Homo sapiens: one gene and its partner. The protein of the gene in region 1 interacts with the protein of each later gene in a pairwise test. Each region holds a gene or a part of one and is shown on either strand. Other genes may lie near its edges.

What was found.
Region 2: the proteins of PRKCH (region 1) and ZBTB8OS interact in a two-hybrid assay, tested with the Homo sapiens proteins (one large-scale study listed by BioGRID and IntAct).

Annotation. Positions count from the first base shown.
Region 1 is NC_000014.9:61,530,955-61,534,772, forward strand, and holds part of PRKCH (protein kinase C eta type), read left to right. Parts: intron 1-3,818. UniProt on the Homo sapiens protein: Calcium-independent, phospholipid- and diacylglycerol (DAG)-dependent serine/threonine-protein kinase that is involved in the regulation of cell differentiation in keratinocytes and pre-B cell receptor, mediates regulation of epithelial tight junction integrity and foam cell formation, and is required for glioblastoma proliferation and apoptosis prevention in MCF-7 cells.
Region 2 is NC_000001.11:32,640,344-32,644,161, reverse strand, and holds part of ZBTB8OS (protein archease), read left to right. Parts: intron 1-3,818. UniProt on the Homo sapiens protein: Component of the tRNA-splicing ligase complex required to facilitate the enzymatic turnover of catalytic subunit RTCB. Together with DDX1, acts by facilitating the guanylylation of RTCB, a key intermediate step in tRNA ligation.

The DNA of each region.
Region 1 (3,818 bases):
CCTGTTATTATATCAATTGTGTTTCTGTTGGCATCTTCAAGTTGCAGGATGAAGCGGTCGGGTCTTTCTCTTAGGGCTGGGAGAGGAGAAGGAAGGTTTTCCAAACCTCTGCAGATCTATTTTGCCTCCATGTTATTCTTATGAAAGCCGGGTGCCACGCCCAGGCTGCAGGTGCAATGTTGTAATGGATCATGTTGAGAAAGTCTTTTCTGTGTGTGCATTTAAGGCACTGTGCTGGATGCCTTTGAATTGAGGATAAACATGTACTGGACGCCTTTATGTTGAAAATAAAGTACATGTAATTTGGGTCAGTTCTGTAACCACATTAGTTGAGCTCCAAAATCATGTATTTTCACCTACTATATGCAGAGGGGTTGTAAAGGCAAATAAAAGATCAGTTTTTCAAGAAGGGATAAATCAGAACAATCTATATTCTGTTGGATAGTATCTATGGCATAAGAATTACTATCCTTAAGTTATATCCTTTCAGTAATTTGAGACAAAAGCAAAATGTGGGAAATATTTGCTATCTTGTTGAAAGACTTGTTTCTCTTTAGAAACTTCTAGCCCTATAATCAGTGCCATTTCAGGGACATTTTTTATGTGGGTCACTGTGTACTGGGGCTGAAGGCTTGATTGTCCCTGAGAATTCTCTACATCGCTAAAAGAGAAATAATCACAGAAATCCTTCTGAGGCAAATATTACCAAAGTGAATCATAACACATAGCTCAATCCTCAAGCTGAGGTGTCAGTACCCTCCTGAAACTGAGAAAGCACTAATTTCACAGAAATAAAAGCACAGTACTTTGGGATTCTACCAAATATCTCCTATCTAACATGTTTTTGTAAGAACAGTTCATTTGTTATATTAGTAGAAATTTTAGAGGAAACCATAAATATGGCTTTTATAATTTTATGGAAAAAAAAAGTCACAGAGAAGGGCCTGTCTTCGTGGATTTGTGCCATGAAGTTTCTTAACTTCCTGAAGGGAAATGTACTCACCTAGGTTGGCTGCAGCCAATTTTGATAACATAAACCATGATAACACAGCCTCATCGTGCTGCAGACGGAGGCGTACTTTGCATGATCACTTTCCTACTTCCATGGCCCAGCACCTGGCTTTTTGTAAAAAAGCATGCCAGCCTTCTGTGGCCTGCAACAGCCACCTTCATCATACTAATGGTTTTCCATGCTCCACATATTTAGTCCAATTACTGTAGCTGATTTAGTAGTTTTAATATTTAGATGAAGGACCCCACAGTTCATAATTCAAATTAAAATACTGGTTCAAGCCATAAAAAAAATGCCTGTTATCAGCATTGGTGTATAAAGGTCACTAGGCTTGGTACCATGAAGGGTAGGAAATAAAAGTCAGTCTATGCCTCAATAAATTTTTATATTCTCTAATATAAACACTGGATTAGCAATCCAGATCAGTGTTTCTCTGATAGATACCCTATGCCTTTTGAATCTAGGTCTAGTAGAAATCTTAAGAGGCCACATCACCATTTGAGTTGGACATTCCTAATTTTTTGTCTTTACATTTTTAGAAGTCCTCAACCTCATTCTCGTGTTTCAGAGTCCTCTTGAGAGAATGCTTTCCAACTAAATCTGAAACTAGGTATCATCCCCTTAGCCTAGAACCTAGGACAAGTACTAAGCAAGGTTAAGATTCCTATGGAATTTTTAAGACTTGTTTCTTTTTAACCGGGTGAGCTCAGTTACTTCAAGCTATATCTTTTATGTAAATATGGATATTTTTGGTAACGAGCAGATACACTGTCCAGTAATAGCCTCATGGTCTTTCCTCCAAGAGGAAACAGCCTCTGGTGCCTAAGGAGAATCGCATCCAGTGGAGACTGAGTTGTTCTCTCTCCTTGCAGGTTCACTTTTGGGAAGCTACAAGTCCCTTCACTTCTCTTTATTTCAGCTCCTTTCTCATGCCAGCTGCTCCACTGATGGAGGCAGCAGCTGCGATTGTTACATATCATGCGTCTAGCACTCATTTTCCTAAATAACACTCGACGCTCTCTCTGGGTATCTTCCACATAGGAAGGAGCAGGGGCTCTGGGCTCACAGTGCCGGGCCTGCCTCCCAGTCCTGTTACCTTCTGGCTGAGTGGCCTTGGTGAGCCTCTGTGCCTCTCTGAATCTCAGTGTCCTTGCTTGTAAAATAGAGGTAATAAAATCCATACCATAGGGTGATTGTCCAGATTATATGAAATAATATAGGTAAACTTCCCGGGCACATAATAAGCATTCTGTTTTTTCCTCCTTCAAGGCATGTACCTTCAATGTAATTTTCTTAAAAACACTTAAATGTTGTCAGATAAAATTACTAAAAAAAAAAAAATCACTAAGAGGATTTCTGGGATTTTTTTTTTTTTTTTGTGCATTTTACTCTCCATGCCTAAAAACAAGAAGCTTAAATGGTATAGATGAAAACATTCAGCTAGTCTTTGCAGGGGACTGAGACATTTAAATAGAAATGTGATCAAAGAGAAAAAAGAAATGTTCAGAGCACTCAAGACTTGAGGAGACACACTGAGGAGGGAAAGGCATCAGAATTGGGTTGGTTAAGAACCTGCCTCCAGAGCAGAGCTGCCTGGGGGCAGATCTTGGCTCTTTGACTAATAGGCTGTGTGACCTTGGGCAAATGGCATAATTCTTGCATGCCTTAGTTTCCTCTCCATTTCCTTGGGCAAATGGCCTAATTCTTCCATGCCTCAGCAGGTGGGGTGTACAACCCACAGGGCTACTGCGTGGTTGGCATGAGATAACATGTGTGGGTGCCTGAAGCAGTGCTTGGCACAGGGTACGTGCCCAGGAAGTGTCCTGCACTATTACTGCTGAGAGCTGCATGCATGAAATGATTTTTTTACACTCTGCCCTTATCTCTGAAAAAGTATTTGTCATATTAGGAGGAGGGTTCGAGATAGCAAGGTGTGCTATGCCAACCACTCAGGCTGCTTTCTGGCTCTAATTGCAACTTGATTTAATTAGGCCAATATAGTTATTTTACTACCAGAAGAAAACTTAGAGATTGTCCCTTCCAACCCCCTCGTTTTATAGATGAGGAAACCATGAGGTACTGAGAAATTGTGACTCATCAAAGGCCATTTAACACATTACTTAAATCAATTGGGGCCTTTGTGCACTGCTGATGAGGATGTAAAATGGTGTGGATAATGGTATGGTGGGAGGTTCTTCAGAAAATTAAGCAGAATTACCATATGATCTAGCACTTCTACTTCTGGATATTTACCCAAAAGAATTGAAAGTGGGAACTCTAATAGATATTTGTACACCCATGTCCATAGCAGCATTACGTACAATAGCCCGAAGGTGGAAGCAACCCATGTGTCCATCAACAGATGAATAGATAAGTAAGATGTGGTACGTGCACTCTGAACAAGCATTCATTTGGCTGCACAGGGCCAGATCAAGGTATACTGTGTTCTTTACCAATATTGACTTGACGCCTTTTTCCAGAATTTTGTGTCCACCTAAGATCAGGCTTTCTGGGAGCTTGGTGACTTCAAGAGTTCCTCATGTGAATAGTTGAATCCATTGGATGGTGTTTTGCATAGTTCTAAAAACAGTAGGGAAATCATGAGTGCTAAGTTTTGAACTGTAATTATTTGTCTTTGCCCTTAATTTTATAGAGCTTTGTGATCATTAGAGGCATAAACACAGAATTGTAGAGCTGGAAATAGTTTAAAAATATTTTGTCCACATTTCCTCATCTGTAGATGAGGAAACGGGCCCAGAGAGATGAAGGGACTTTACATGTTAGAATGGAAAGAACACACCCTAGA
Region 2 (3,818 bases), on another chromosome or scaffold:
AAGCCCCTGCACCTGGAACTGTTTACTTTCCTGTAACCATTTGTCCTTTTAACTTTTTGACTACTTTACTTCCGTAAAATTGTTTTAACTAGACCCCCCCTCCCCTTCCTAAACCAAGGTATAAAAGTTAATCAAGCCCCTTCCTTGGGGCCGAGAGAATTTTGAGCATTAGCCGTCTCTAGGTCGCCGGCTAATAAAAGACTCTTAATTTGTCTCAAAGTGTGGCGTTTTTCTAACTCGCTTGGGTACAACAAGGCCAAGGTGGAAGGATCACTTGAAGCTAGGAGTTTGAGCAACCTGTGCAACCTAGTGAGACCCCCATCTTTTTAATAGAAAAAGAAAAAAAAAAGTAAAAAAAATTAGCTGGGGCCAGGCATGGTGGCTCACGCCTGTAATCCCAGCACTTTGGGAGGCTGAGGCAGGCGGATTACGAGGTCAGGAGTTCAAGACCAGCCTGGCCAACATAGTGAAACCCCCTCTCTACTAAAAATACAAAAAATTAGCCCAGTGTGGTGGTGCACGCCTGTAGTCGTAGCTACTCGGGAGGCTGAGGCAGGAGAATAGCTTGAACCCGGGAGGCAGGGGTTGTGGTGAGCCGAGATCATGCCACTGCACTCCAGCCTGGGCCACAGTCCCAGCTACCTAGAGGCTGAGGCAGGAGGGATCTCTTGAGCCCAGGAGGTCAAGGCTGCTGTGAGCCATGATTGTGCCACTGTACTCCACCTTGGTAGACAGTGAGAACCCATCTCTTTAAAGAAAAAAAAACCAAAAACTAAAACAAAAACTAAAGGCCAAGTGCAGTGGCTAATATCTGTAATCCCAGTACTTTGGGAGGCCAAGGCGGGTGAATCACCTGAGGTCGGGGGTTCGAGACCAGCCTGACAAACATGGAGAAACCCCCGTCTCTACTAAAAATACAAAAAATTAGCCATGCGTGGTGGTGCATCCCTGTAATCCCAGTTACTTGGGAGGCTGAGGCAGGAGAATCGCTTGAACCTGGGAGGCAGAGGTTGCAGTGAGCGGAGATCGTGCCATTGTACTCCAGCCTGGGAAACAAGAGCGAAACTCTATCTCAAAAAAAAAAAAAAAAAGGCCAGGCACGGTGGCTCACGTCTGTAATTCCAGCATTTTGGGAGGCCGAGGCCCGCAGATCACCTGAGGTCAAGGGTTTGAGACCAGCCTGGCCAACATGGTGAAACTCTGTCTCTACTAAAAATACAAAAATTAGCCGTGCGTGGTGGCGCGTGACTGTAATCCCAGCTACTCCGGAGGCTGAGAGCAGGAGAATCCCTTGAATCTGGGAGGCGGAGGTTGCAGTGAGCTAAAATTGGACCATTGCACTCCAGCCTGGACGACAGAGGAAACTCCATTTGAAAAAAAAAAAAAAAAAAAAAGACCTAGAATTGATGGAAAGGGAATGTTCTGGTTAAGATAAAAGATTGTGGAGAACAAAGTTCTTTTGAAGTCCTATAGTGGCTGCCCTTAGAGACAATAGAAGACAAATGTTTCCTATTCAGATGTTAGTTAACATCTTTAGGATTGGGAGGGTCTGGAAGAAAAAGATCTAGCTATGTTAATAGAGATTCTTTACGGATGCAAATTCTCCCCCAGAAAGAACAGCTTTGCCGGGCCATTTCTTTTTTTTTCTTTTTTTTTTTGAGACAGAGTCTCGCTCTGTCACCCAGGCTGGAATGCAGTGGCACCATCTTGGCTCACTGCAACCTCTGTCTCCTGGGTTCAAGCAATTCTCCTACCTCACCCTCCCGAGTAGCTGGGATTACAGGTGCCTGCCACTACGCCCAGCTAATTTTTGCATTTTTAGTAGATACGGGGTTTCACCACGTTGGCCAGGCTGGTCTTGAACTCCTGATCTCAGGTGATTTGCCTGCCTTGGCCTCCCAAAGTGCTGGGATTACAGGTATGAACCACCGCGCCCGGCCCTGGCCATTTCAAAATATGGCAAAGAAACATGCTTTGGGGTAAAATATTTTGATTTTCTTCCTTGTGTTGTATCTTGTAATTTTATGCCAGACTCAGGTTAGAAAGTAAGTCACGATGTATAGGGTTAAATAAAATACTTCTGAAGAGAATTTGTGATTTGTAGGGCATGACTCCCCAAACCCCTTAGATAGGAATTTGGGCAAGATAAAAAAAAATCAGAGTTTAGTTGTCATAATATTCTATGTAACAAAATTGGAAGTATGTACAAAGGTTTTGTTTTGTTTTGTTTTGTTTGAGACAGTCTCGCTCTGTCACCCAGGCTGGAGTGCTGGAGTGCAGTGGCACAATCTCGGCTCACTGCAACCTCCGTCTCCCGGGTTCACGCCATTCTCCCGCCTCAGCCTCCTGAGTAGCTGGGACTACAGGCGCCAGCCACCATGCCCGGCTAATTTTTTTTTTTTTGTATTTTTTAGTAGAGACGGGGTTTCACCATGTTAGCCAGAATGGTCTCGATCTGCTGATCTCGTGATCCGCCCGCCTCGGCCTCCCAAAGTGCTGGGATTACAGGTGTGAGCCACCGTGCCCGGCCTGTATAAAGTACTTTTGTGGCATGTTAAGTGTTGATTACTTGTGGAAAAGAACAATAATTGGCCGGGCGCGGTGGCTCATGCCTGTAATCCCAGCACTTTGGGAGGCCGAGGCGGTGGATCACCTGAGATTGGGAGTTCGAGACCAGCCTGACCAACATGGAGAAACCCCATCTCTACTAAAAATACAAAATTAGCCCGGCGTGGAGGTGCATCCCTGTAATCCCAGCTACTCAGGAGGCTGAGGCAGGAGAATTGTTTGAACCCAGTAGGCAGATGTTTTGGTGAGCTGAGATCGCGCCATTGCACTCCAGCCTGGGCAACAAGAGCAAAATCTGTCTCAAAAAAAAAAAAAAAAAAAAAAAAAACTTGTGTAATTGAGTTGTGAGCTGAACTAGGTCCGTTTTTCATGGAACACTTTTTCTTGAAAGAATGAAAGACATGCTTTTGTTATTCAGACTTCAGTATTTGGCTTGCTCTATTGCCCAGGCTGGAGAGCAGTGGCACGATCTCGGCTTACTGCAACCTCCACCTTCTAGGTTCAAGGGATTCTTCTGCCTCGGCCTCCCGATTAGCTGGGATTACAGGCCCCACCACCATGCCCAGCTAATTTTTTTTTTTTTGTATTTTTAGTAGAGACAGGGTTTCACCGTGTTGGCCAGGCTGGTCTTGAACTCCTGACCTCAGGTGATCGGCCCACCTCGGCCTCCCAAAGTGTTGGGATTACAGGTGTGGGCCTCCACACCCTTGAAAGTGAACAGTGATCTGTCACATCAAGGAAAATAGCTGACAATATTTGTTGATAATGGTAAAATTCAAGTCCAGTTAAAATTTTCAGGCCTGATGAGCTTAATCTCAGCACTTTGGGAGGCCAAGGGGGACAGATGGCTTGAGCCCATAAGTTCGAGACCAGCCTGGGCAACGTGGCAAAACCCTGTCTCTTACAAAACATTAACTAGGTGTGGTGGTGCGTGTCTGTAGTCCTTACCACTTGGGAGACTTGAGGCAGAAGTATCACTTGGACCTTGGAGGTCTAAGCTGTAGTGAGCTGTGATTGTGCCACTGCACTTCAGCCTGGATGACGGAGTGAGACTCCGTCTCAAAAAAGAAAACAAAAAGATTCATTCTAAGTGCATAATAGATCAATGGATTTTAATTTTACAATATGGTAAGTTCATTGTGATGGTTACAGAATCCACATTGCAACTAACGTTGAAAAAACTACCATGTTTTGGCCGGTGCGGTGGCTCATGCCTGTAATCCCAGCACTTTGGGAGGCCGAGAGGGGTG